Homo sapiens: one gene and its partners. The protein of the gene in region 1 purifies or fractionates together with the protein of each later gene. This does not show direct contact. Each region holds a gene or a part of one and is shown in the gene's direction. Other genes may lie near its edges. The genes, in order: IFT56, FOSL2, IFT172, KATNIP, OBI1, HK3 and UFD1.

What was found.
Region 2: the proteins of IFT56 (region 1) and FOSL2 purify together in Homo sapiens (co-immunoprecipitation; one large-scale study listed by IntAct). This does not show direct contact.
Region 3: the proteins of IFT56 (region 1) and IFT172 purify together in Homo sapiens (affinity purification with mass spectrometry; one large-scale study listed by BioGRID and IntAct). This does not show direct contact.
Region 4: the proteins of IFT56 (region 1) and KATNIP purify together in Homo sapiens (tandem affinity purification; one large-scale study listed by IntAct). This does not show direct contact.
Region 5: the proteins of IFT56 (region 1) and OBI1 purify together in Homo sapiens (affinity purification with mass spectrometry; one large-scale study listed by BioGRID and IntAct). This does not show direct contact.
Region 6: the proteins of IFT56 (region 1) and HK3 purify together in Homo sapiens (affinity purification with mass spectrometry; 2 studies listed by BioGRID and IntAct, with this or other methods). This does not show direct contact.
Region 7: the proteins of IFT56 (region 1) and UFD1 purify together in Homo sapiens (affinity purification with mass spectrometry, with the first as the bait; one study listed by BioGRID). This does not show direct contact.

Annotation. Positions count from the first base shown.
Region 1 is NC_000007.14:139,140,278-139,143,777, forward strand, and holds part of IFT56 (intraflagellar transport protein 56), read left to right. Parts: intron 1-1,978; coding exon 1,979-2,028; intron 2,029-3,500. UniProt on the Homo sapiens protein: Component of the intraflagellar transport (IFT) complex B required for transport of proteins in the motile cilium.
Region 2 is NC_000002.12:28,409,858-28,413,357, forward strand, and holds part of FOSL2 (fos-related antigen 2), read left to right. Parts: intron 1-615; coding exon of another isoform or gene 616-718; intron 719-2,021; coding exon of another isoform or gene 2,022-2,072; coding exon 2,073-2,591; 3' UTR 2,592-3,500.
Region 3 is NC_000002.12:27,451,744-27,455,243, reverse strand, and holds part of IFT172 (intraflagellar transport protein 172 homolog), read left to right. Parts: intron 1-583; coding exon 584-677; intron 678-825; coding exon 826-890; intron 891-1,081; coding exon 1,082-1,262; intron 1,263-1,504; coding exon 1,505-1,614; intron 1,615-1,730; coding exon 1,731-1,860; intron 1,861-1,973; coding exon of another isoform or gene 1,974-2,006; exon of another isoform or gene 2,007-2,107; intron 2,108-3,500. UniProt on the Homo sapiens protein: Required for the maintenance and formation of cilia. Plays an indirect role in hedgehog (Hh) signaling, cilia being required for all activity of the hedgehog pathway.
Region 4 is NC_000016.10:27,752,644-27,756,143, forward strand, and holds part of KATNIP (katanin-interacting protein), read left to right. Parts: intron 1-1,529; coding exon 1,530-1,608; intron 1,609-3,500. UniProt on the Homo sapiens protein: May influence the stability of microtubules (MT), possibly through interaction with the MT-severing katanin complex.
Region 5 is NC_000013.11:78,614,156-78,617,655, reverse strand, and holds the end of OBI1 (ORC ubiquitin ligase 1), read left to right. Parts: intron 1-330; exon of another isoform or gene 331-533; coding exon 534-2,076; 3' UTR 2,077-3,367; downstream 3,368-3,500. UniProt on the Homo sapiens protein: E3 ubiquitin ligase essential for DNA replication origin activation during S phase.
Region 6 is NC_000005.10:176,896,547-176,900,687, reverse strand, and holds the start of HK3 (hexokinase-3), read left to right. Parts: upstream 1-1,341; 5' UTR 1,342-1,421; intron 1,422-4,141. UniProt on the Homo sapiens protein: Catalyzes the phosphorylation of hexose, such as D-glucose and D-fructose, to hexose 6-phosphate (D-glucose 6-phosphate and D-fructose 6-phosphate, respectively).
Region 7 is NC_000022.11:19,469,194-19,472,693, reverse strand, and holds part of UFD1 (ubiquitin recognition factor in ER-associated degradation protein 1), read left to right. Parts: intron 1-885; coding exon 886-1,007; intron 1,008-3,500. UniProt on the Homo sapiens protein: Essential component of the ubiquitin-dependent proteolytic pathway which degrades ubiquitin fusion proteins.

The DNA of each region.
Region 1 (3,500 bases):
TGGGCATGCTGTTGGTGGTATTTAGGTATAGTTTTATTCAGGCTCTTATGGCTGTGGACTTTATCGCTGCTTTTCCTGTTTCTAAGTGAGAAACCCAGCAATTTCAGTTTGAAGAATCCAGAAATCATCCCTTCTGCTTTCTTACATATGATATTCATCTCAGGGCGATTGTACTCAAATTTAAGAATAAAAGGGAAACATGGTAGAAAAAGTTAAAGATGGCTGGGTGCGGTGGCTCACGCCTGTAATCCCAGCACTTTGGGAGGCCAAGGTGGGCAGATCACCTGAGGTCAGGAGTTCGAGACCTGCCTGACCAACATGGAGAAACCCCATCTCTACTAAAAATACAAAAATACAGAAGGTGGTGCATGCCTGTAATCCCAGCTACTTGGGAGGCTGAGGCAGGAGAATCACTTGAACCCGGGAGGCGGAGGTTGCAGTGAGCCCAGATCGCGCCATTGCACTCCAGCCTGGGCAACAAGAGTGAAACTCCACCTCAAAAAAAAAAAAAAAAAAAAAAAGTTAATTAAAGTATGAACCAAATTAAGTTCAAGGAAATGCAGAGAAAGTGGGCACTGTAATGTTTGATAGGGAAGAATGTATTTGAGGTAAAATTAATTTATACATATAAAGAATTTCAGCCCAAATTCATGGCAAACATGGAACTTGAAGACTTTTTTTTTTTTTTAAAAGACAGGGTCAGCCGGGTGCAGTGGCTCATGCCTGTAATCCCAGCACTTTGGGAGGCCGAGGTGGGCGGATCACGAGGTCAGGAGATCGAGACCATCCTGGCTAACATGGTGAAACCCCGTCTCTACTAAAAATACAAAAAAATTAGCCAGGCGTGGTGGCGGGCGCCTGTAGTCCCAGCTACTCGGGAGGCTGAGGCAGGAGAATGGTGTGAACGCGGGAGGCGGAGCTTGCAGTGAGCCGAGATTGCGCCACTGCACTCCAACCTGGGCGACAGAACAAGACTCTGAAAAAAAAAAAAAAAAGACAGGGTCTCACTGTGTTGTCCAAGCTGGAGTACAGTGGCTATTCATAGGTGTGAGCATCGTATGCTATAGCTTCAAACTCCTGGGTTCAAGCCATCCTCCAGCCCCAGCCTCCTGAGTAGCTGAGGCTACAGCCACGCCCACCACCATGCCCAGCAAAGCCTTTCTTGATTTGTACCCAAATTATTTCATAGGTACTAATGTAGTTTTTCCTAATTTAGTTATAAGGTCCTTTATGTTACTTACTTTATCTCATATTTGTAGGCTTTATCTGTGCTAAGAACAGTGTTAGACACATATAAGGTGATTGTGGTAGCTATCTCTATTTCCATATTTTTTTTCTTATACATTGAAGTATGACTTTTTCTGTAAAAGAGATAGAATTGGGTATCCAGAATCAGAAAGTTTTCCAAGAGTGCAAAGGAGATTTGGAACTTAAAAGCTGTTAACATTTTTGCTGGACTGCCTGTTTCAGGATGGCACATAATTATGCTAGAAAATCTGTGGAATAGAGGCTGGGCTAGTATTTAGGAAAATATGGCAGTATAATTGTGGAAAAGGAGATATCAGAAGGAATTAACAAAGAATACTGGGACTAAGAGGTGAATGAGAGCAGATTCATACACACATTGAGATGACCATGGGTGTCTCTTACCACTGTTTGGTTTGGTATATGAACAACACAGAGGTGGGCTGCTACTACAACCATGTGTGTGGAGTGTTGCATGGTGGATCACCATAATAGGATCAGGTAGAACAAGCAGTGGAGAAGAACAGAATCTTAGCACCTTTCTCTTCTAGTTCTTGATGCTGTTTCTGCTACTGCAGGTGGACACCAGACTCAAACAATATGTATTCTAGCAGAGACATATTAGGATCAGATGAGTAAGGTTTGGGAAGATTCATCCGAGTCTCATTTCATTCCTACAAGGGACTGCTAGACTGTTGAGTTCTTTAATAAGCAGCTTGGATTTTTTTTTCAGCTTCAAAAAGCCGACTCCAAAACCGCCTCCTCTTCCACTTGGCTCACAAGGTATTTATGTTCTCATTTCACATTTTTTTGTTTTAAAAATATTTTTATTTTTCTTCCTTCTTGTTACTAACACTAGTGAGAGATATTTAATTAGAAATTCTTGTTAATGGTTTTCTAGAACAAGTGGAATATAACTGTTAATTGTATAGGATTTTCTCCTCTATCAATGTTCTTTACCTACTGCATTTATTCAGAGATGTTAGGTTTTATTTCTCCTTAAGCAACAGTCATATAAGAAGTTTAGACTGGCATGATAGCTCACGCCTGTAATCCCAGCACTTTGGGAGGCTGAAGCGGGCGGATCATCTGAAGTCAGGAGTTGGAGACCAGCTTGGCCAACATGGTGAAACCATGTGTCTACTAAAATACAAAAAAAATTAGCTGGGCTTGGTGGCACACCCCTTTAATCCCAGCTACTGAGGAGGCTGAGGGAGGAGAATCACTTGAACCCAGGAGGCGGGGGTTGCAGTGAGCCGAGATCGTGCCACTGCACTCCAGCCTGGGCGACAGCACGAGACTGTGTCTCAAAAAAAAAGAAGTTTAGTTTGTGTCAACTATACTATTATCTGTTAGGAAACAGACTCAGAGTCACCTTGTCCTGACTCCTAGAAATAAATATACACTTTTCAGAATTGCTGTATGGTAATAATTTTGATAATGATAAAATTATTTTTTAAATAATTTTTCAAATTTAAAATTTTAAATAATTGTTTAATTTATTTAAAAAATTGTTTTATAGCATTCCACCAAATGCATCATATGTGCCATTATTTATTCAGTGTTTCTTAGTTATTTGACTTCAGATTATTTATAATTTTAAAAATTTATAAAAATGTCATTCTGAACATCCTAGAAATGGACATACCTACTGGGTATGAGCAACTTTAAAGCTTTTAATTGATATTGCTAAGTTGTTTTACAGAAAGTTTAATCATCCACAGGCATTATATGAAAATAATTATTTCTGGTACATTTAGAAATTCCACATCATAATTGTCACTTTGTCTCTTTCTCTTTTTAGTTCTGCTTTACATGTTTTTCAGACTCTGTCATTAAGTGCACACAAACTTAGAATTGCTAGTAGACTGCCTAGCAATAATGTCTTCCTAGTAGACTGAAACATATATTATCATGAAATATCTCTCATCTCTGAAAAATTTCTCTTTGTCATATTTGTGAGCTATACTAGCTCTTTTGGGTAGCATTTGCCTATTATATCTCTCATCTATCCTTTTACTTTCTACCTTTCTATGTCCTTAAATTTAAGGTGACTCTTATAAACAGCATATAAATGAGTTTTGTGGGTTTTAAAATCCAGTTAAAATCTTTATTAAAAAAAAACCTCTAGTATATAATCCATTTACTTAATGTATTTACAAATACAGTTAGCTTCATAACTGCCATCCTGTTATTAGTTCTCTATTTGCCCAGCTGGTCCATGTGGTCTGTGTTCCTTTTTCTCTCCTTTCTTG
Region 2 (3,500 bases), on another chromosome or scaffold:
AGCCTCCCAACTAGCGGGGATTACAGGTGCCTGCCACCATGCCCGGCTAATTTTTGTATTTTTAATAGAGACAGGGTTTCACCATGTTGGCTAGGCTGGTCTCGAACTCCTGACCTCGGGTGATCTGCCTGCCTTGGCCTCTCAGAGTGCTGGGATTACAGGCGTGAGCCACCACGCCTGGCCCATCCCCTCACTTGAGTTAATGTTTCCAGGTACCATCCACCCACTTAGGCTTGTCTTTCTCTGTCCTGCAGCCCTCACTCTGGGGTGTTGAATGAATTGAATTGCGTGAATTCTGTGATGCCTGTAGTAATGGCCCTCGGAGGTGTTAGAGCCGGGGAGGATGAGTGGGAATTCTTCATTCCCAGGTGAGGCAGATCCACAATCCACTTCCTCAGCGGGCCCTCCCACCACTAACCTTTCTGTGATTGGCACTTCAAGGAGCTGTGCCCCATGTGGCGCTCCTCACCACCCGCCCCGGAATAGCCCTGCCCCCTGAGGCTCCTCTACTTTCCTTCCCTCCTCCCAGAGGCCTCACACCCTACTCCCCTGCCTCCCCCACCTCCCCCGCCCTCTGACCCAGCCACCCAGGCCCCTGAGCCACATCCTCCACAGGAAGCCTCTCAGAAGCTCATGACGTTCGTCAGACCCTTGAGACAGACGGAAACTGTTTTTCACTCCGGAATATGCTGTCCTCTGCTGAACGAAGCCCTTGCCCGTATGTCCTCACTGATGAACAGGAATCCATGTTAGGGAAAACGTGGGGAGGAGGCTGGTGACACACACCTCTTCCCCTCCCACAGCGGCCCCTCCACGTGCACTTGCTCGCTTCTGCTTCTCTGGCTGGGGATGAAAGAAGGGGGCTGAGGTCCTTGCGGGGTGACCCTGGCATCCTCACAGGCCCTCTCGGGCTGTCACGTTACTTCTGTGTCAAGCGTGGTGGCTGAACCAAATGTTCTCTGAGGGTTCTGGGAGTCCTGAAATATGTGCTTAAGAAATTGGAGCAAAAGGCCAGGCGCCGTGGCTCATGCCTGTAATCCCAGCACTTTGGGAGGCTGAGGCGGGTGGATCACCTGAGGTCAGAAGTTCAAGACCAGCCTGGTCGATGTGGTGAAACCCCATCTCTATGAAAAATACAAAATTAGCCGGGTGTGGTGGCAGGTGCCTGTAGTCTCAGCTACTCGGGAGGCTGAGACTGGAGAATAGCTTGAACCCGGGAGGCAGAGGCTGCAGTGAGCCAAGGTCATGCCACTGCACTCCAGCCTGGGTAAGACAGAGTGAGACTCTGTCTCAAAAAAAAAAAAAAGAAAGAAATTGGAGTGAAAAAAGGGAGGAGGAGAGGCTGTGATAATCCCACAGGGATTTGCTGAGCACTTCTGAGAAGCCAGGCACTGTTCTAGGTGCTAGGGATACAGGAGTGTGCATGACAAAGTCTCCACTCTCTAGCAGCCTAGGGCTTAGCGTTTATCCATCCACAGGTGGGCTGGCATGGGGTTGGGGAGTAAGAGAAGGAGAGAGGTGGGTAGAGCTGTGTTCCGTACCCCCTTCTCCATGCAGATCTCTGCAGTACTCACCCCTCAGGGGTACCGAGGGGGCAGTCCTGGCACCAAGGCCATAGAACATAGACCCTGGAGTCAGATACATTGGGAATCAAATCTGGGCTACCCCACCTGCTAGCTCGGTGACTTTGGAAAATTAACAGAACCCCTCTGAACCTCAGTTTCCTCATCTGCAAAATGGGGCGATGATAACATCTGCTTCCAAAAAACTCCTGGAAGATTGAATGAGATCATCTCTGAAATGCTTAACACTGTGCCCTGCACAAAGTAGGTGCTGGGTTATGGCAGCTGCAGTTGTTGTCTTACCCCCTCTCCAAGCTGACTTTCCTTCTTTGGAAATGAAAGGAATCTTGAGCCTCCAGGTGACTGAGAGACTCAGACCAGCGGGGTCTGTGGTTAGGTGTGTGAGCCTCTGCTCTCACAGTGTCTGAGAACATTACTGGTTTTCTCTTTCCTGCCTAGATTGGTCCCTGGCAGGTTGCTGTCCCTCACATCCCTCTCTTTCCGTGGCAGGAGACAGAGGAGCTGGAGGAGGAGAAGTCAGGCCTGCAGAAGGAGATTGCTGAGCTGCAGAAGGAGAAGGAGAAGCTGGAGTTCATGTTGGTGGCTCACGGCCCAGTGTGCAAGATTAGCCCCGAGGAGCGCCGATCGCCCCCAGCCCCTGGGCTGCAGCCCATGCGCAGTGGGGGTGGCTCGGTGGGCGCTGTAGTGGTGAAACAGGAGCCCCTGGAAGAGGACAGCCCCTCGTCCTCGTCGGCGGGGCTGGACAAGGCCCAGCGCTCTGTCATCAAGCCCATCAGCATTGCTGGGGGCTTCTACGGTGAGGAGCCCCTGCACACCCCCATCGTGGTGACCTCCACACCTGCTGTCACTCCGGGCACCTCGAACCTCGTCTTCACCTATCCTAGCGTCCTGGAGCAGGAGTCACCCGCATCTCCCTCCGAATCCTGCTCCAAGGCTCACCGCAGAAGCAGTAGCAGCGGGGACCAATCATCAGACTCCTTGAACTCCCCCACTCTGCTGGCTCTGTAACCCAGTGCACCTCCCTCCCCAGCTCCGGAGGGGGTCCTCCTCGCTCCTCCTTCCCAGGGACCAGCACCTTCAAGCGCTCCAGGGCCGTGAGGGCAAGAGGGGGACCTGCCACCAGGGAGCTTCCTGGCTCTGGGGGACCCAGGTGGGACTTAGCAGTGAGTATTGGAAGACTTGGGTTGATCTCTTAGAAGCCATGGGACCTCCTCCCTCATTCATCTTGCAAGCAAATCCCATTTCTTGAAAAGCCTTGGAGAACTCGGTTTGGTAGACTTGGACATCTCTCTGGCTTCTGAAGAGCCTGAAGCTGGCCTGGACCATTCCTGTCCCTTTGTTACCATACTGTCTCTGGAGTGATGGTGTCCTTCCCTGCCCCACCACGCATGCTCAGTGCCTTTTGGTTTCACCTTCCCTCGACTTGACCCTTTCCTCCCCCAGCGTCAGTTTCACTCCCTCTTGGTTTTTATCAAATTTGCCATGACATTTCATCTGGGTGGTCTGAATATTAAAGCTCTTCATTTCTGGAGATGGGGCAGCAGGTGGCTCTTCTGCTGGGGCTGACTTGTCCAGAAGGGGACAAAGTGCAATACAGAGCCTTCCCTACCCTGACGCCTCCCAGTCATCATCTCCAGAACTCCCAGCGGGGCTCCCTGAGCTCTCAAGGAGATGCTGCCATCACTGGGAGGCTCAGAGGACCCTTCCTGCCCACCTTCGGAGACGGCTTCTGGAGGAACGGCTTGGCCAGAAGACAGGGTGTGAGTGAGACAGTGGGGCACAGGTTGGGTTTGCCAAACGCCTAATTACCAGGCCAGGAAGCATGCCAACAAAGCCACACGGGTGTCCTAGCCAGCTTCCCTTCACCTGGTGTCTTGAGTAGGGCGTCTCCTGTAATTACTGCCTTGCCATTCTGCC
Region 3 (3,500 bases), on another chromosome or scaffold:
ACAGCCTAATAAGGACCTGCCGTTTGCCTCTCTTTCTGGCATTGTTGATGCTCTTGAGCACATCAGCCAGGACATTCATGCGCACTATTGCGGCGGTGCAGAAAGATAGCCAAAAGAGCAAAGTGTTCTCAAGCTACTGTTATCAGTGCCAATCATGGAGTCCGATGCTGAGGGTGGTCTTGCTCATTTTTTGGAGAGACTCTGTTTCTGCTAATGTAGCTGGGGCTCAGGAAGAGATGGAGAGCACCAGGAGCCCTCCTAGCCCTGTCAGTGTAGGGCTGCGAGGCTCACTCCTCCCTTCCCCTTCGCAGGCCCAAACTAATTCCTCAGGAGCAGCTGGCCTCAGGGAAGGCATAGGCTTTTCCAGACGTCTCTTGATCCACGCTGACAGTGACATGGTCTTCACAGGGCTGCCTGCCCGTCTTCCTTTTTATCTCTCCACGCTTTTCTGTCACTTCATATTTGTTATCCTTAAATCTGTCACTTTTTCTCCCCTCAACTCTGTCCTTTCTCTGTTTTGTCTTGTTCCTTTTATGAAGGGAAGCATGAAGCAAGAAAACTTTATCTGCACTTTCTGTTTCAGCTCCTTTGAATTTGCGTTTGAACTCTCTCGGCTGGCCCTCAAGCACAAAACCCCCGAGGTTCATCTCAAATATGCTATGTTCCTGGAGGATGAGGTATGGGTGTGATTTGGACCCCGACCGCAGAGCCCTCTTATTCCATCCCCTAGTGCACTGCTGCTGGGTGTGCAGACCCCCAGTCTCATGCCTGCCTGTGATGCCAGTCTCCTTCTCATCATGCACGGCTGCCTTTCTCTCCCTGTAGGGTAAATTCGAAGAGGCTGAAGCTGAATTCATCAGAGCTGGTAAACCCAAGGAGGCAGTCCTCATGTGAGTTACCCCATACATTCCTTAATACTGTTTCCCCAGTCACCGTCCCAGGATCTTTCATGATTATCTTGACCTTCATTCAAACCTAGAACAAATCAGTGTTACACCCCTCAGTGACATGGCTGTTTGTCTCCCACTATTGGGGCCTCAGTCCTATACTCAGTCTCTCCTCTGTCCCCACCTGGAGGCAGGTTTGTCCATAACCAGGATTGGGAGGCAGCTCAGCGTGTGGCTGAGGCTCACGACCCTGACAGTGTCGCCGAGGTGCTTGTGGGACAGGCCCGGGGGGCCTTGGAGGAGAAGGACTTTCAGAAAGCAGAAGGGCTGCTGCTCCGGGCCCAGAGACCAGGCCTGGCCCTCAATTATTATAAGGTGGGGCACTGGATGCAGGGCCATGAGGGGAGGGGGAGAGTTTGTAAGAGCCCACAGAGAGCCACACTGACCCCTGGTATGAAGAAAGATCAGGGAGGTTAGTATTGGGGAGTGGGGAAGACAGGAAAGAGGAGGAGAAGAGAGGTCCAAGGACCCAGGAGTCTGTGGGCCAGAGTACCTGTGTGGCAGTGGGAAGCTGTCAGGCCTGCCTCTGCCCTCTTGATACCTGGAAATCTGAGCAGGAGGCTGGATTATGGAGTGACGCTCTGCGCATCTGCAAGGACTATGTGCCCAGCCAGCTGGAGGCTCTGCAGGAAGAATATGAGCGGGAAGCTACTAAGAAGGGGGCCAGGTATGAGGCCAGAGGTCCAGGCAGCATTGGCAGGGCTGGGAGGGTCATGAGGCATACACAGGATAGAGCATGCTGCCCCCCTACCATGCCAAGTCCCAGCGCTCTCATCTCCACAGGGGTGTGGAGGGATTTGTGGAACAAGCTCGACACTGGGAGCAGGCTGGAGAGTACAGCCGTGCCGTGGACTGCTACCTCAAAGTGCGAGACTCTGGAAACAGCGGCCTGGCGGAGAAGTGCTGGATGAAGGTGAGGACAGCAGGCCCTTTCTGGCCCTCCTTCTCCCTAGGCCTCTATTCACACTTGGCTCTGCTTCTCACATCTTCAGCTCTTTCCTCTTGTGTCTTTTTCTTTTCAATCAGGTAGCAGGAATCTATGGAGTGCCTGCTGGATGATAGAGCCAGAACCTCTGAAGGCTATAAAAGTGGATATAAGACAGAGCCCTGACAGCCAAAAGTTAGGGGAATTAGACCAATAAATGGCTCAATTACTATCATATCTGAGTAAAGACTAAAGTGCATGATTTAAAGTAGAGTTCAGAGAACAGTGAGATCTCTGTGGGCTAGAGGGGTCAGGAAGGCTCTGTGAAGAAGGAGGGAAGACTTGGACAGGAGCTGGAAGGGCAACTCCAGGCACAGGAACTGGCCAGACAGGGAACATGAAAAAAGCATGGGCTCCACCTCCCCCACCCAACATTTCCTGAAAAGAAGCTTCCAGCAAATTAAGCCAGGCCAGTATGTGTCACAAATAATAAGACATACTGTATTGGAGAAACCAACAGGATATATACAGTCATATGCCATATAACAACGTTTTGGTCAACAGTAGACCACATGGGTGGGCATGGTGGCTCACGCCTATAATTCTAGCACTTTGGGAAGCTGAGGTGGGTGGATCCCTTGAGGTGATCCCACGCCTGGCCTTAAATAGGTTTCAATACACAAATGCTTACCATTGTGTTATGGTTGCCTATAGGTAGTCAGTACAGAAATGTGCTGTACAGGTTTGTGGCCTAGGAGCAATAAGCTCTACGCAACCTCTACCTAGGTGTATAGTAGACTATACCATCTAGGTTTGTGCTATGATGCTTACATAATGATGAAATCCCCTAAGGACACATTTCTCAGAACATACTGATCATTAGACAATGCATGACTGTAGGTATATGTGTGTACATGTATATAAAGAGATTTATTAAAAGGAATTGGCTCATGCAGTTATGGAGATAGACAAGGCCCAAGATCTGCAGGTGAGCTGGCAAACTGAAAACCCAGGAGAACTGATGGTGTAGTTCTTGTTTGAAGGCCAGCAAGCTTGAGACCCAAGAAGAGCTGATGTTTCAGTTCAAATCTGAAGGCAGGAAAAAGCCAGTGTCCCAGTTTAAAGGCAGTCAAACAGGAAGAATTCTCTCTAACTTGGGAAGGAGCCAGCCTTTATGTTCTGTTCATGCCTTGAAATGATTGGATGAGGTCTATCCACAGTAGAGAGGGCAATTTGCTTTACTCAGTCTACCAATTTAAATGTTAACCTCATCCAAAAACACTTATAGAAACACCCAGAATAATGTTTGACCAAATACCCGGATACCCTGTAGCCCAAATTGATACATAAAGTTAACAATAACATATATATATATATATATACACACACACATACATATATATAATTATATTTTAATATATTTAAAATTGGGATGCAGGTATAGTTTAAATGACGCACCTTAGATACAGTGAAATGTGAGTGGGGGTCATGAGGGGGGTGAGATTGGCCCTCTAAATGACATATTCGTATGGTGATGCCCCTGCAAAATTTCCCTTAGGTTTTGAGGTTTTTTTGTTTGTTTGTTTATTTTGTTTGTTTGTTTTTTGAGACGGAGTCTTGCTCTGTCG
Region 4 (3,500 bases), on another chromosome or scaffold:
GGGGCTCAAGCAATCCTACCACCTCAGCCTCCTGAGTAGCTGAGACTACAGTGCATGCCACCATGCCTGGCTAGTTTTTTTTTTATTTTTTGTAGAGATGTGGTCTTGCTATGTTGCCCAGGTTGGTCATGAACTCCTGGACTCAAGCGCTTCTCCCACCTTGGCCTCCCAAAGTGCTGGGATTACAGGCAAGAGCCGCCACACTTAGCCAGATAAACAAATCTTTTAAAATGAAAGATGACCTTCAAGGTCAATTCAAGTCAGGACCAATAGGAAAAAGAGGAGATGGTTAAACAGGGTAGGGGAGAAATGGGGACAACACAAGCCACAAGGGATGGGGCTGGGCTGTGGGAAGGTCATGACTGAGGCAGGACAGCAACATGTCGTGTGGACCCCATGGTGTTCCCTGGGGATTGTACCTCGCAGCCAGGCAGAGCATGGGGTGCAGGAGCAGGGCATGGGGAGGCACAGGCAGCTGGGGAGTGCGTGCCCCTCCCCCTCCCCACATCTAAGGAAAGCGGCCACCAAGAGGGGCAAGCCCATTGTTGCCAGTTCTCCTGATTTTTACAAGAGAAGCCAGAAAGCTGGATTTTTCTGTAAAACCTCTCCATTTAAAAATGCTGGCAGTGAATTCAGATGTGTTCAAACCTTTTTTGGGCCACAAGCCGTGCCTGTGCTCCTGATTCGACCCAGGGGTCTCCAGGTGGGAGTCTACCCTGGGCGCTTCCATTTGCCCAGCGTTTTCCAAATGACAAAGGTGCTCGTAAGGGACTCTGATGGGCCCAGCGCTGTGAGGGGCTGGGGGGATCACTCTCTCAGTCTCGTGAGAGACCAGCGCCTTCACTTATGGTGCAAAGAGACAATGAGCAAATAGTTTATATGTAAGGCCCAAGAAGGGTGTGGTGGCCCACCGTTGACTCTCTGAAGACCAGGATTTTTTATCCTGGCTACCCGTGGAAATCACTTGGGTGGATCTTTAAAAATGTCTGGGCCCCACCCCTAGAGATTCTGCTTCAGTGAACAGCCAAAGTTAAGAGCCACTCTCTATGGTTTGAATTCTTCCACTTCCCCTTCCTTCCTTCCTTCCTTCCCTCCCTCCCTCCCTCCTTCCTTCTTTTCCTCCTTCCCTCCTTCCTTTCCTCCTTCCTTCCTTCCTTCCTCTCTCCCTTCCTTCTCTTCTTCCCTTCCTCCTCCTTTCCTTCCTTCCTTTCTTTCTTCCTCTAGCTCACCACATAAGCATTTATTGAGTCCTTCCCTGTTGGAGGAAATTTAAACACCTTAGCTGTTAGCATCAGGCTCCTCCCCAGCCAGTGAGAGCTGCTGACAAGGATGCAGACCCTGGAGGGTCAGGGTCCGCCCATATCACTGGTCCCATAGCTTCCACAAAGGCAGAAAAATCCAGGAAAACACACAAGGACTTACCTGGGCATAGGGTGGGCAGTGGTAAATGCAGAAACAGCCAGCCAGCTAGCTGTGTGGGTATCACTAAAACCACCCCCTTTTCCTCTGCTTCTCCAACCCATGTGCAGATCCCGGAGCTAGAGCTCCCATCCAGTTCCCCTGTCCCCCAAGTCACCACGCCAGAGCCAGGCATCTACCACGGAATCTGTGAGTAGCTCTCCTGGAGCAGTGTTGGGTGGAAGGAGGACCTTCCAGGGACAGGGGGAGTTGTGGCCACTTGGGACAGGGTTTCGCTGGACAATCGGGTGGGTTGGACACTGTACAGAGACACCAGGCCATGGGGCAAGTGGAGGCTGAAACCAGCCTGCGCTCAGCTCCCTGGCCCTAGCAGGGCCACCTCACTCCAGAGGAGGGGCATCTCTTAGCATTTTGCCTTCCCTGAGGGGCATTTTTGCATGCAGACACCCTATGTGTTAGCTGTGACCATGACCCTGACCCAGGAGGTGTAGTTGGCACCCAGAAAGTGTAGAACAAGAGGACATTAGAGCCTGAAGAGACCCAAGGCATCTGTTGGTGCAGTGCCCCGAGCTGTCTCTTCCAACTCCACCAAAGAGTAGATGCACAGGCAGAGAAAACCTGCATCCACTCTGCCCCGGGGGTGGGGGCAGGTGCACAGGCCCAGGGTACCAGGTCTTCTGACTTTTCAGAAGAAGTCGGAAATCTAGAGTCTTACGTGAAGTCTCCAGATTCTCAAATGTGTGTAACGAATTTTCTCATGTTTTAAAATATCACATGAGCCAAATAAAACACTTATTGTGTATCTGGCCAGCTGGCTGCCAGTTTGTGACTTCTGAGCAAATCCCAGGGGTTTTCTGCTGGGCCTGTTCCTCACCCTTCTTTTCCATTGATCCTTCCAGCCAGTTCCTCTCTTCATCCATGCGTGTCCACATCAGCCCCTCCCCGTCCTGGGGAATCTTCAAGCCCAAGGTCACTGCTGATTGTGATCTCCTCCCTCCTGCACCCTGCTAACCAGGTTCCTGGCAGCCTCACTTCCTGCTCTCTCCTGCCCCCTGTGAATGTGACCCGCTTCTACTTTATCTTCTGAGACAAAAGATGTGACACTGTCAGGATCCCCTCCCCACCTCCCCATCCTCATCTCCAAAATGAAGCTGGAGCCTCTCCGAATCCTGGTGTCAGCCCTTCCGGGACCTCCCCATGCCATCTCTGGAGTCCACCTGCAGGCACCTGTGCAAGCCACACCTTCCACCTAGGATGCCTCCCTGCTCCATCTCTGCCTTCTGACGACCACCTGTCGCTGGCTAGGTTCCCTAGACACAGACCCTGAGATGGAGTTTCCTGGGGTGTGCTCTTGTCAGGGAAGGGTAGGAGGCAGGATTGGGCAGAGGGAGAAGCTGGTCTGCGGTTCAGCCACTTCAAGGCCTCAGCCTGCTCCACAGGGAGCTCGGAACCTGGGATGGCCCTTTGGGGTCATCCTGAGTTGAGTGAGGGGCCATGTCTTTATCTGTATCAACATGGCACTGGCTATGGGCTGCCCCTGGGGAGGGGCATGGCTTTTTATTTTACTTTTTAATTTGTATTTATTTATTTTGACACAGTTTTACTCTGTCGCTCAGGCTGGAATGCAGTGGCATGATCTCAGCTCACTGCAACCTCCGCCTCCCAGGTTCAAGAGAGCTCCTGCCTCAGCCTCCCAAGTAGCTGGGATTACTGGTGCCCACCACCACGCCCGGCTAATTTTTGTAATTTTAATAGAGACAGGGTTTCACCATGTTGGTCAGGCTGGTCTCGAACTCCTGACCTCAGGTGATCCACACACCTTGGCCTCCCAAAGTGCTGAGATTACAGGCATGAGCCACTGTGCCCAGCCGGACATGGCTTTTTGCAAGGAGACTCTCTTCAGCCAAGGGCAGTCACAAGTCAAGAGCCTCAGTGGTGAGCTGCCAGCCGTCAGCACTTCCCGCCACCAGAGGACTAAGTCCTTCTGTTCCTGGGGGTGGGAGGTGGGGTCTGAGCAGTGCCCTAAGTGAGCTCCACATCCCCTCCCTTATGGCCCTTCTGCGACCGCATCTCCTCCCCAG
Region 5 (3,500 bases), on another chromosome or scaffold:
CAAATAAGTATTTAAAACCACCCCTCCTGGGACTGCTAAGATTTCTGAATTTCAAATTGGCATTTTATGTTTGACAAGGTGACATTATATAAGAAATGTATTGTAAAACACTGCTGTATGATAGGAAAATGATTGAATGTAAATATTTCAAGATGTAGACCACTGTTCAAATGTTATCATAAATCTTTGCCATTGTTTTAGGGGATAACTCTTCATGCATATATGAGCTGAATTGATACAGCCAGCTCTTCGAGGGGAAATCATCAGCACATTTCTGCCTCTCTGCTACCATAGATCTGATTTAACCACAAAAATATCCTATTAGGTTTTGCTATTATTATCATATGTTTATTATTATGTAAGTGGGGAAACCATTTTTTGAAAATATACATCTGGCATTTGCCCTACTCATTGAGTGGTCTGAAATGTCACTGTTAGGTGAAATTAGAATAGCCTGGGACAGTTTGCACTCTCAAACCTTGAAAAGAAAAAAGCTTGAGTTATAAGATTAACTATCTTTCCATTCTTTGTAGGTTTGGAAGGTTTGCAGTTGCTGCTCTTCAGTCCAAAGTAGAACAGTATGAGCGTGAAACCAATCGCCTCAAGAAAGCCCTGGAACGAAGTGATAAGTATATAGAGGAACTAGAATCTCAAGTTGCACAGCTAAAAAATTCAAGTGAAGAGAAAGAAGCTATGAATTCCATTTGCCAGACAGCACTTTCTGCAGATGGCAAAGGGAGCAAAGGCAGTGAGGAGGATGTGGTGTCAAAGAATCAAGGCGATAGTGCCAGAAAGCAGCCTGGCTCATCCACCTCCAGTTCTTCTCACCTAGCGAAGCCTTCCAGCAGCAGACTGTGTGACACCAGTTCTGCAAGGCAGGAAAGTACCAGCAAAGCAGACCTTAACTGTTCTAAGAACAAAGACCTATATCAAGAACAGGTAGAAGTAATGTTAGATGTGACAGATACAAGTATGGATACTTATTTGGAAAGAGAATGGGGGAATAAACCAAGTGACTGTGTACCCTACAAAGATGAAGAACTTTATGATCTTCCAGCTCCTTGTACTCCTTTGTCCCTTAGTTGCCTTCAGCTCAGTACTCCAGAAAATAGAGAGAGCTCTGTGGTCCAAGCAGGAGGTTCCAAAAAGCACTCAAACCATCTCAGAAAATTGGTGTTTGATGATTTTTGTGATTCTTCAAATGTTTCTAATAAAGATTCTTCAGAAGATGATATAAGTAGAAGTGAAAATGAAAAGAAATCAGAATGTTTTTCTTCCCCAAAGACAGGATTTTGGGACTGTTGTTCCACAAGCTATGCCCAAAACTTAGATTTTGAAAGTTCAGAGGGGAACACGATAGCAAATTCTGTTGGAGAAATATCTTCAAAATTGAGTGAGAAATCAGGCTTATGTTTATCCAAAAGGTTGAATTCTATTCGCTCTTTTGAAATGAACCGGACAAGAACATCCAGTGAAGCATCGATGGATGCTGCTTACCTTGACAAAATCTCTGAGTTGGATTCAATGATGTCAGAGTCAGACAACAGCAAGAGCCCTTGTAATAACGGTTTTAAGTCACTGGATTTGGATGGGTTATCAAAGTCATCTCAAGGCAGTGAATTTCTTGAGGAACCTGATAAGTTGGAAGAAAAAACTGAGCTAAACCTTTCCAAAGGTTCTCTAACTAATGATCAGTTAGAAAATGGAAGTGAATGGAAACCCACTTCTTTTTTTCTCCTCTCTCCATCTGACCAAGAAATGAATGAAGATTTTTCACTCCATTCCAGTTCTTGTCCAGTAACTAATGAAATCAAACCCCCAAGCTGCTTGTTTCAGACAGAGTTTTCCCAGGGCATTTTGTTAAGCAGTTCACATCGACTATTTGAAGATCAAAGATTTGGGTCATCTTTGTTTAAGATGTCCTCAGAGATGCACAGTCTTCATAACCACCTTCAGTCTCCTTGGTCTACTTCCTTTGTGCCTGAAAAGAGGAATAAAAATGTGAATCAATCAACAAAAAGAAAAATCCAGAGCAGCCTTTCCAGTGCCAGCCCATCAAAAGCAACTAAAAGTTGACTCATTAGAAAGGTGTCATTTGTGGTTTTGTCCTGAGAGAAATAGAAAAGTTGTTAAAGTTACCTTTTTTCCTCATAAAAGTTCTATACAAATTGGAATTGATAATCTTTAGTCAAGTATCAAGTCAGGATGGTGGATTAACCTGTACCCAGAATACTTATTGTTCATTTTGAAAAGACTTTGTTCTTTTCATTTTTATTTGGGAGTCTTTGTGACCAGAGAAGTTAGGGAGGAGGTTATTTTTGTGTTTTGGGGTTGGTTGGTTGGTTGGTTTTGTTTTTGGTTTTGTTTTTTTACTGAATTTGATATGTATCTCGGTTGGATATACATTGTTTTTTTAAAAAATGTTATTTAACTGTTAGATACAGTGGCCTGTTGATAAGCCCCACTTGTCTTCAGAACTTGGATTTCTTAAATAAAACTTTTAGTGTTGTCTATACACTGCTCAATAAGACACTTGAGTTTAAGCTTTTCCCAGGGTGGAAATTATTTTACCTGTCCCTTTTTATTTATGTTTAGTGATGGCCTAGTTTTTCTGCAGGGCCATGATGGAGAAATAGCACTCTAGCCTTAGTCCAATATTGATTTACTTTCTTTTTTTAGGTTTTATGTATATGTTTGCATTTTTTAGCATTGTGTTTTGTCCAGTTTTGTGAAAATGTTCTGCTAGTATGAAAGAAAACATTTTCTATATGAAGACATTTGTTTTATGTTAGGTAGCTTACATTTTCTCCTCTGCGTGTGTGTGTATGTGTGTAAAATCAGAAATTTAGCATACTATGGAAAGAAGGCATGGAGCACTTGGGTTTAGAGGAACCTAAAACATCATAGCTTCATTGTTCCAGATGTAACAGGTTTGAAAGAGCTCATCGCCAAGTTCTTGATCCACTTGCATTCCAGGGGAGTTTTCTTTTGAGTAGTATGTTTCTTGTTTGCATGTTCCTGTTCTTTGTGGAAACTATGCATGGTAGCATTTTTGCTTGCTGTGTTTTCCATACTTAAGAAAAAGAGGTTTCAGTTGGCTGATAGAATATCTTTTATGTAGGACAAAACTTTTCTGTGAAGAGTGTTGAGGGGGTGAAGATAGGTAAGAGGTAAGCACAATTTTTAATTTAGGCTCTGAAAAAGTGTATTGTTCTAAACGTATTTGGTATGCCTATATAGGTCTTTAAAAATGGGTATGTATGCTGTTTAATGTGCACTGAACATTTTACATTAATATTGTACTGTTTTACATTAATACTGCATGCTTTTCTATGTGAATTGAATAAAGAATGTCATAAGCACTGTGTTCCTTGATGTCGATGATGATTCTTTGTCTCGTATATTGAATTAGCCTATAAAGACCAGGAAAAACTACTTTTTTTTTTTTTTGAGACGGAGTCTCAATCTTGTCGCCTAGGCTGGAGTGCAGTGGCGCGATC
Region 6 (4,141 bases), on another chromosome or scaffold:
CCAGCTGCTCACAGACCTCAAGCTCAGCCATCCTTCTCCCTCCACTGGCCTTGACCCAGACTTTCCCTGGCATTCTGACTAGGGAACCAGGACCCCTGCTCCTGGGGTCTGGACACAGACCTTCCAGAAACGCAGATGAAGAGCCCTGGCCATGCTTGTCAGGGGCATATCCTCACCCTGGCTCAAGAAATGGCAGGCTATCTGCATGAATCACAGCTGGGCCTTTCATAGTCAGTTCCACATTCTCCTCTCCCAACTGAACAAAGTTGAAAGGGACTGGGATCCCAGGCTAGGCAGGATGCTGTGTTGTTTGTGACAGCCACTCTACCCTCTGCCACCCCATCCCCCACTTCCCTGCCTTTCACAGCCTATATGCCTGGTTGGTACCCAGTAAACTTCACAGCAGGACTGATGTTTGGCATGTTTCCTGGCCTCTTCATGCCACTACTGATAGAGGAGCCACTATCTCTGGTCTCCATCCTGATGTCATGTGGAGGCCTACTATCTGTGGATAGAGTTACTGCTGACAAGGCAGCCTGAAGCTTTAAAGTGTATCCATGCCTTCAACAAAGATTGTTGCAGGCTGTCTAGTATTCTACATTGGTGCCCCAAGGTTCTGTGCCTTTGAGGAGAAATTCCCACAGAAAAACAGCTTGTTCGCCAATAGCTCCACAGCAGCCTAACACTCCCCTTCTTCCAGTAGAGAAGACCTAAGATGTGAACCTACTCTCCCTGCGCAGGCTACAGACTAAAGGCTAGACTCCGCAGTCTGCCTGTCACCTCCTCTCCCACTATATATTCCTACCTTGGTGTACCCTCTTCAGGCGCCTGGAGCTGCACCTCATTGCTGTGTGTGTGTGATTTGTGGTTGTGCACATGCTCTCCACTTTGTCAAGGACCACTTTTGTCAGCATACTGCTGTTCTTTCTTCAAGACTCAGCTTCTTCAGCTAGCCCTGCCCACTCTCGGCAGAGTCAGTCCCTTCCGCTTGTGCTCCCACATTGCCTCTTGCTCAAAAGTACTTACCATAACCTTTCCAGGCTAGGCGCCTCCAGCTCCTTCTAGGGGCGAGCCACCACCTCAGAACTCACTATATTTGCAAAATAAACAGCCCTCAGCATTGTAGAGGGAATGGCCCAAAATCTTAGACCCAGTTCAACGCTCCACTTCGCGGTAATCATCTTGCTCAAGTTTTCACCACAGCCTTGCCTAGCCTGGGCTACTCTTAGGGCAGGCTTGGAAGGAAGTGCAGCTTCCTGAATTAGCTGATGTTTGGTAAGTGGTGGTGGAGGAAAAGGGTGGGGCTTGAGGATATTATAACTCGGGTCACCCCTGAGTGTTGCTTTTGGTCATTGGGGTGCCTCATATTGCCAGACAAGAGCTCAGACCTGAGGAGAGTGACTAGCTTCTCTGTGTCCCAGGTAAGCACTTCGGTCTAATTACTGCCTGCTCCTTCCACAGCTGTCTTGTCCTCATCCCTCCTGTTTGGCTCACACCAGGGGAAGTGGACACTGGAAAGATTAAGCCAGCTGGTTCTCTTTCTTTGTTTTTGAGATGGGGTCTCTCTCTCTATCACCCAGACTGGAGTACAGTGGCACAGTCAGGGCTCACTCCAGCCTTGACCTCCTGGGTTCAAGTGATCCTCCCACCTCAGCCTCCGGAGTAGCTGAGACTACAGGCGCACACCACCACACCCAGCTAATTTTTGTTATTTTTTTCTAGCGATGGCGTTTTGCCATGTTGCCCAGGCTAGTCTCACATTCCTGGGCTCAAGCAGTCTGTCTGCCTCAGCCTCCCAAAGTGCTGGGATTACAGGTGCAAGCCACCACACCCAGCCTGCCAGCTGGTTCTCGATGGCAGCTCCCAACATCAGTAGAGGTCCCTGGGGTACTTTTCAGGAGGAAAACTCACTTCGTGTAGCCCATTCAGCTAAGGGAAGCCACGGGGCCCTTAGGCAAACAGACCCTGGGCTCTGGGGATACTGCAGTGAAGGAGACATGTCCCTCCCCACAGGGAATCTCAGTGGGAAGAGACAGAGCTGAATACATTTACCTAGCATATAAATATTAGGGCTACTTGGGGATTGCTTCACAGATTCTGTCATGTAAAAATGCTGAATAAATATTGAATGGATGAGGGAATGAATGAGTGAGTGAATGAATAAATGAACTAGCTGGGCCTTGAGAAAGACACGTGTGTAGCCCTTAGTCCTTTTCGAAGGTAATTGCCCCAGTTACCTCATTTTATCCTTGAAATAGACCTGCAGCATAGAACAAGAATTCCACACCCCTATTTGACAGATTTGGAAACTCAGCATAGGTATGTATGGTTTGGGGAGATTTATCAGAAGCTGATTTGTTGCTTTATTAAATAAAAAACTACCCACTCCCCTTGCTTCCAATTTTGGAAAGGCACATTAGCACATACCTATACCAGACCCTGTGCCGGCCATGAGTGCAGAGGTGATCAAGTTGGGTGGGGTAAGGAGGTGAAGAAACTAGAAGCAGAGCTATCAGTTTAGGAGGCTGTTGTAATAATCAGGCCGGAGGATGGTCTGGTGCAGTGTGTGGGAATGGGGAGGAGGGGATGCAGAGGAGAGCTCTTAGAGAGCCTGAGATCCAATTGCATAGAGGAGGTGAGGGTGAGGGATGCGCGCAGGCAGCCCGAACGGCCGTGTGAGTGAGCACACTTCGATGTCTCCAGTCAAGGTGGAGAACAGAAGAGCTTTGTGGGGGTAAGGTGATGGAAAAATGAGTATGGCTTTGTTGAATTTGAGGAGCTTCTCCACCATCCAGATAGTGATGTCTAACAGACCACTGGGATTTAGGATTTGGCTGAGGCCAAAGGTAGATTTGGGAGCCCTGACACAGCTATTAATGAAACCTTGGGAATGGGCGAGATAAAGGGAGTGTAGAGGGAGGGCATGACCGAAACTTGGGAACCCCATTGTCTGAAGGAACAGAAATTACTGATGAAGACTACGAGAGACTCAGGAAGGAGACCTAGGAGAGACTGGCCGTGAAAGCCAAGGACAGGGGGAATTCTGTAGCAAAGAGAATGACTACTGGCTTTGCATGCCTGAGAGAGGGCAGCAGAGGTGGGGACTGAGGAAAAGGCTTGGGATTGGGCAGTTAGGAGGTCACCAGTGACCACGTGGAGGGCAAATTAGTGAGCATAGTGGGAGTAGGCAAGGAGGGGAGTGTAGGGGTGGGAAGGTACTATATTTCCAGAAGTTCTGCTGTTGCAAGGAAGGGAGGTAAAGTGACTCAGTGGACAGATGTCTCTTCCCATATTGGGCCCTCTGCTGTGTTTCCCTTTTCCCCCACCCCTAAAGAGCACCTGACTCACTGAGGGCTCCCTTGGGACTATGGAAACAGCAATACCACCTCCAGCTCGGATGAGCGAAGTATCTGACATTTCTACAGTTCCTTACAGTGTGCAAAGGACCACTAACTCCTTTAATCCTCACAAGAACTGAGCTTTTCATGTTATAGAGGAAATGGAGAATCATAGAGTTTCAGTTCAGATTCAACTACATAAATCTGAATGCACATCTGAGCAAGTTCCTTTGCTCTCGTGATCTCATTTGCCCCACACAACCCTTTGATACATGTTGGTCCCATTTCACAGATGAAAAGCCTGGAGGTTGAGATGGGGTGCAGCTGCCTTGTGGAGAGCAGGGTTCCCACCTCTGAGTACAGGGCTCTTTCTGCTCTGCATCACTTCACTGTTAAAACCCACCTGATGTTTATGTTGCACACTACATCTCATAAAGCATTTCCCCAGGTGTTATTCTATTTAGTGCTCACAACAACCTTGTGAGGGTAGATATTATTTCCTCCTGTTTTATGGATGGAAGCTGAAATTCAAAGAAGTCATAAATGACGTCCAAGGTCAGGTCACTAGTGGAACCCCTTTCTGAAGCACAGATCCACCCCTGTCCATGACCCCTGTTGCCTTCAGGATGAAATTCATGTGCCTTAGCCTGGCACAATGGCTGTCCCTTTTCCAGCCTGCCTGCTTCTCTGGCAGGTCTTTGGTTCCCTCTTTGTTCCAAGCCTCTAGCATGTCCCTGACCTCCCAACCACAGCAGCATGTCCATCTATTACATGTGGCCATCTTGCTCACTGCCTGTGCTAAT
Region 7 (3,500 bases), on another chromosome or scaffold:
AACAAGGGCCTTACACATGGCAAACACCATCACTACCATCAGTTCCTTCTCGGTCTTCTCCCGGGGGCCCAGTGTCTCCTGGGTTTTCCTGCCTCTTTTTGCCAGCCCTTCCTTTATGTGCCTGTGCACCTCTTGGGTCAGCACGTCACCAGTCCAGCTTACTTGCCTCTGGCCTTGCTTTCAGCCCACACCTCAAGGTCCATCAGAGAGAGGGGGCGTCCTATGTCATGACCCTGCTGAGAGCTCACACTGCCCGCTGGGCCCAGGCCCTAGGTTCTACCCCGTGTGGTGCCCCTCCCCTTCCCAACCACTCGCACACCTGTCCCCAGCCTGTCTTGCCTAATTATCCACCATTTCTGAACTGCCTGGGCTCCTCTTCCCTTCCACGCCTTTGCTCAGGCTGCCACCTCTGCCTGGATTTCCTCCCAGGTCTGCCCGCCCAGTGCCCAGCCTAAAGAACTCGGCCTCTAGGAGCCTAGCCCAGTAGCTCTGCCCCCTCCTGCCAGCTCTTCCCACAGCACCTGCAGCATCTGGTTGTGGTTTTCTTTGTTGGAAGGTTTCTACCTTCAAACTAGAAACCTTTGAAGGTCGGGATTTTGTCCAGGGCATGGTGGGCACTGAAATTATTTATGAATAAATGAATGAACACATCACTTTTTAAAATGTTGACTTCAGAAAATCACAAGTCTATGCCAGTGCTGTGTTACCAAGTTGCCAGGTTCCTCCTTGAGCCGTGCACTGTGCTCTCACAGAGGGGGATTCATCTGCCAGAGGAGTGTGGGGTTGAGGGCAGGATTGTGGGGAGGCTCCTTCTATGGGAAGGCGTGGGCCGAACAGGTGTCCCTTCATAGGAGCTGTGCCTCATAGTCTCTCTCTTATTTTCAGGCCGACTTAACATTACCTATCCCATGCTGTTCAAACTGACCAATAAGAATTCGGACCGCATGACGCATTGTGGCGTGCTGGAGTTTGTGGCTGATGAGGGCATCTGCTACCTCCCACACTGGGTGAGTGGGGCTGCCAGGGTCTCTAGAGAGCAGCCACTTAGGCAGAGACATCTCCTGCACTCGAGAGTCCTGGCCCTGGAGCAGGTGGCCCCGCCTACTCCTCCTGCTCAGCGTCTTAGCCTGAGCCGACCCAGCGAGAGAGAAGGGATCCAGAGCAGTGCACTGTGCCTTATGCGGGCTGGTGGGCTCTGGACGCACCTGTGGGCCACTGTGCTGTGGGAGTGGCCTTTTCTTTGATAGTTGCGCAGCTGAACTGTTCATCTGTGATTTCCTGGGTGAGGCGTTTTTAAAAATAATGGAGCAACAGTATTTTTTAGGTGGTCTAGTAAGTAGGGTGTTTGAGGTTTTTATGCTTTTCCCCTACTTTTAGTAGTCTGTCACAGCATACATGTTTTCAGTTACCTCTGACGTAGTCTCCCAAATCTCTCAACTGAGCTGCCATGGGAGTGACGTCTTTTTCCTTACAAGCAGGCTCTCTTTGGAAAGTTGACTTGAAGGATGTCATTGCAGATCTGGGCTGGGATATCCAGGGCGTGTGAGCCACCAGAGCCTGCCCTCAAGGCTGTACCCCTCAGAGAAGTGAGCAGAACTGTGCCAGTGCTGTAGGGAGGAGCCTGCAGCAGTGAGAGTTCCACACAGGTAGCTGTGGCCCACTTGGCTCCTTCTTCTCCTCACTCCTCTCCCCAGCTCTGGCACATTAGGGAAGTTCACAAAGGGACCTGCTTGTCCTTCTCTTTGTGCTTGGATTACATCAGGCATACTGAGAGACCCCGCAGTGAGCTGTGGGCTGGAAACTCTCAGGAGTGCTTGCTTGGCTGCCACCAGGGAGGTGGTCTGAAGCACAGCCCACCTCTCCTGCTGATGCCCTATCATGGTGGCCGCCAGACGTTCAGAAGGGATGGCCTTAACTAATATTTTCTGAGATTAAATATGAATTGAAATTCTGGCCAGGTACGGTGGCTCACGCCTCTAATCCCAGCACTTCGGAAGGCCAAAGTGGGCAGATCACTTGAGGTCAGGAGTTCGAGACTAGCCTGGCCAACATGGTGAAACCCCGTCTCTACTAAAAATACAAAGACTAGCCGGGTGTGGTGGCACGTGCCTGTAGTCCTAGCTACTTGGGAGACCGAGGCAAGAGAATGGCTTAAACCCAGGAGGCTTAGGTTGCAGTGAGCCGAGATCATGCCATTGCATTCCAGCCTGGGCGACAGAGCGAGACTCCATCTCAAAAAAAAAAAACAACAATAATATGAATCAAAATTCTGAAGGTCTCTTTCCTGCTGTAGCAGGTGACCTTGCCCATGCTGCCATGGTAGTGGCATCCTCTTCAGCCTGGGTCCCAGGGTCCTTCCCAAGGTCTGGGCCTGGCCAGTGTCTCCCCGACAAGAGCCCTGCACTCCCATTGCACCTCCTAGTGCCTGGCCTTCCCATGCTGCCTCCTCACCTCAGCTGACTAGGCCTGCCCAACCTGGCCTGTTGGGGGGCTTTTATGCCTCAAAGCCCAGATTGGCTCACCTGCCCTCCCCAGTATTTGCTGCTCAGCCCCTTGCTATTCTTGTGTTTGTCTGCAGGTGCCCCCAAGGGCCTGAGGCCACATTGTGCTCATCCGGTAGAACACCTGGTCACTGAAGCCACTCTAGGTAGCTGAAGTGTCAGGCAGTGACTACTTCCCCAGTCCCTTCTGTGGCTCACCTATAAGAGGAGGTGGTGATGCTGGGGATACACTGTATCTCGAAGGTTCTCCTTTAACCCATAGACTTGAAGTTTGGGTGGCCTCTTGTCCAAGCTGTTGGACTGCTTTAGACCAGGAAACTAATTGAACCCTTTCTCCCCTGGAAAGCCTCTTTAGGTAGCCTGGAGCTGGTTTGGGGTGTGAAGCCATCAGGCCACCTCTTCCCCTGAGCTGGCCTTCCAGCTCCTGGCATGGGCAGGCGGGTGACAGGTATACCCCATCTGCTGTCTTGGAGGGCATGTGAGCCAGTGCTTTTTCTGGGCTGGCTGGTGGACTCCATCCCACCCATGCTCCCAAGCTTCTTCAGGGCGAGCCAGCCTGGAATAGGTACTGGCCTTTTTCCTTGTAGCCAAGGCTTCGTCTGCTGACCTAGATCCGAGCCCTGGACTAGCCGTTTGTGACATGTGGGTACTCGGCTGCCCGTTGTGCTGTATGCTCTAAAATGCTGCATGGGGAGGGCCAGGCATCAGCTCCTCCTGCCTGCTTAGTGCTCTCAGGCCTCTTCCAGCAGCCCATTTCTCACCTCAAGCCCTAGTCTGACCTCTCTGCCTGTCCTCCTCACATCACCTATGGCAGTGTCCTGCCTCTGGCTGAGGAAGCCACCCCCCATCCCTGGCCAGCCTTCCCTCAGGCTTGCAATTGCAGCCCAGTATCCTTCCCCTCGCTGACAAATTTCCCACAAAAATCTACCCAGGGACAGTGCGCCTGGCCTGCGACTGGCTAACTCTGAGCCTTAGAATACTTCCTGTTAGAACATCACT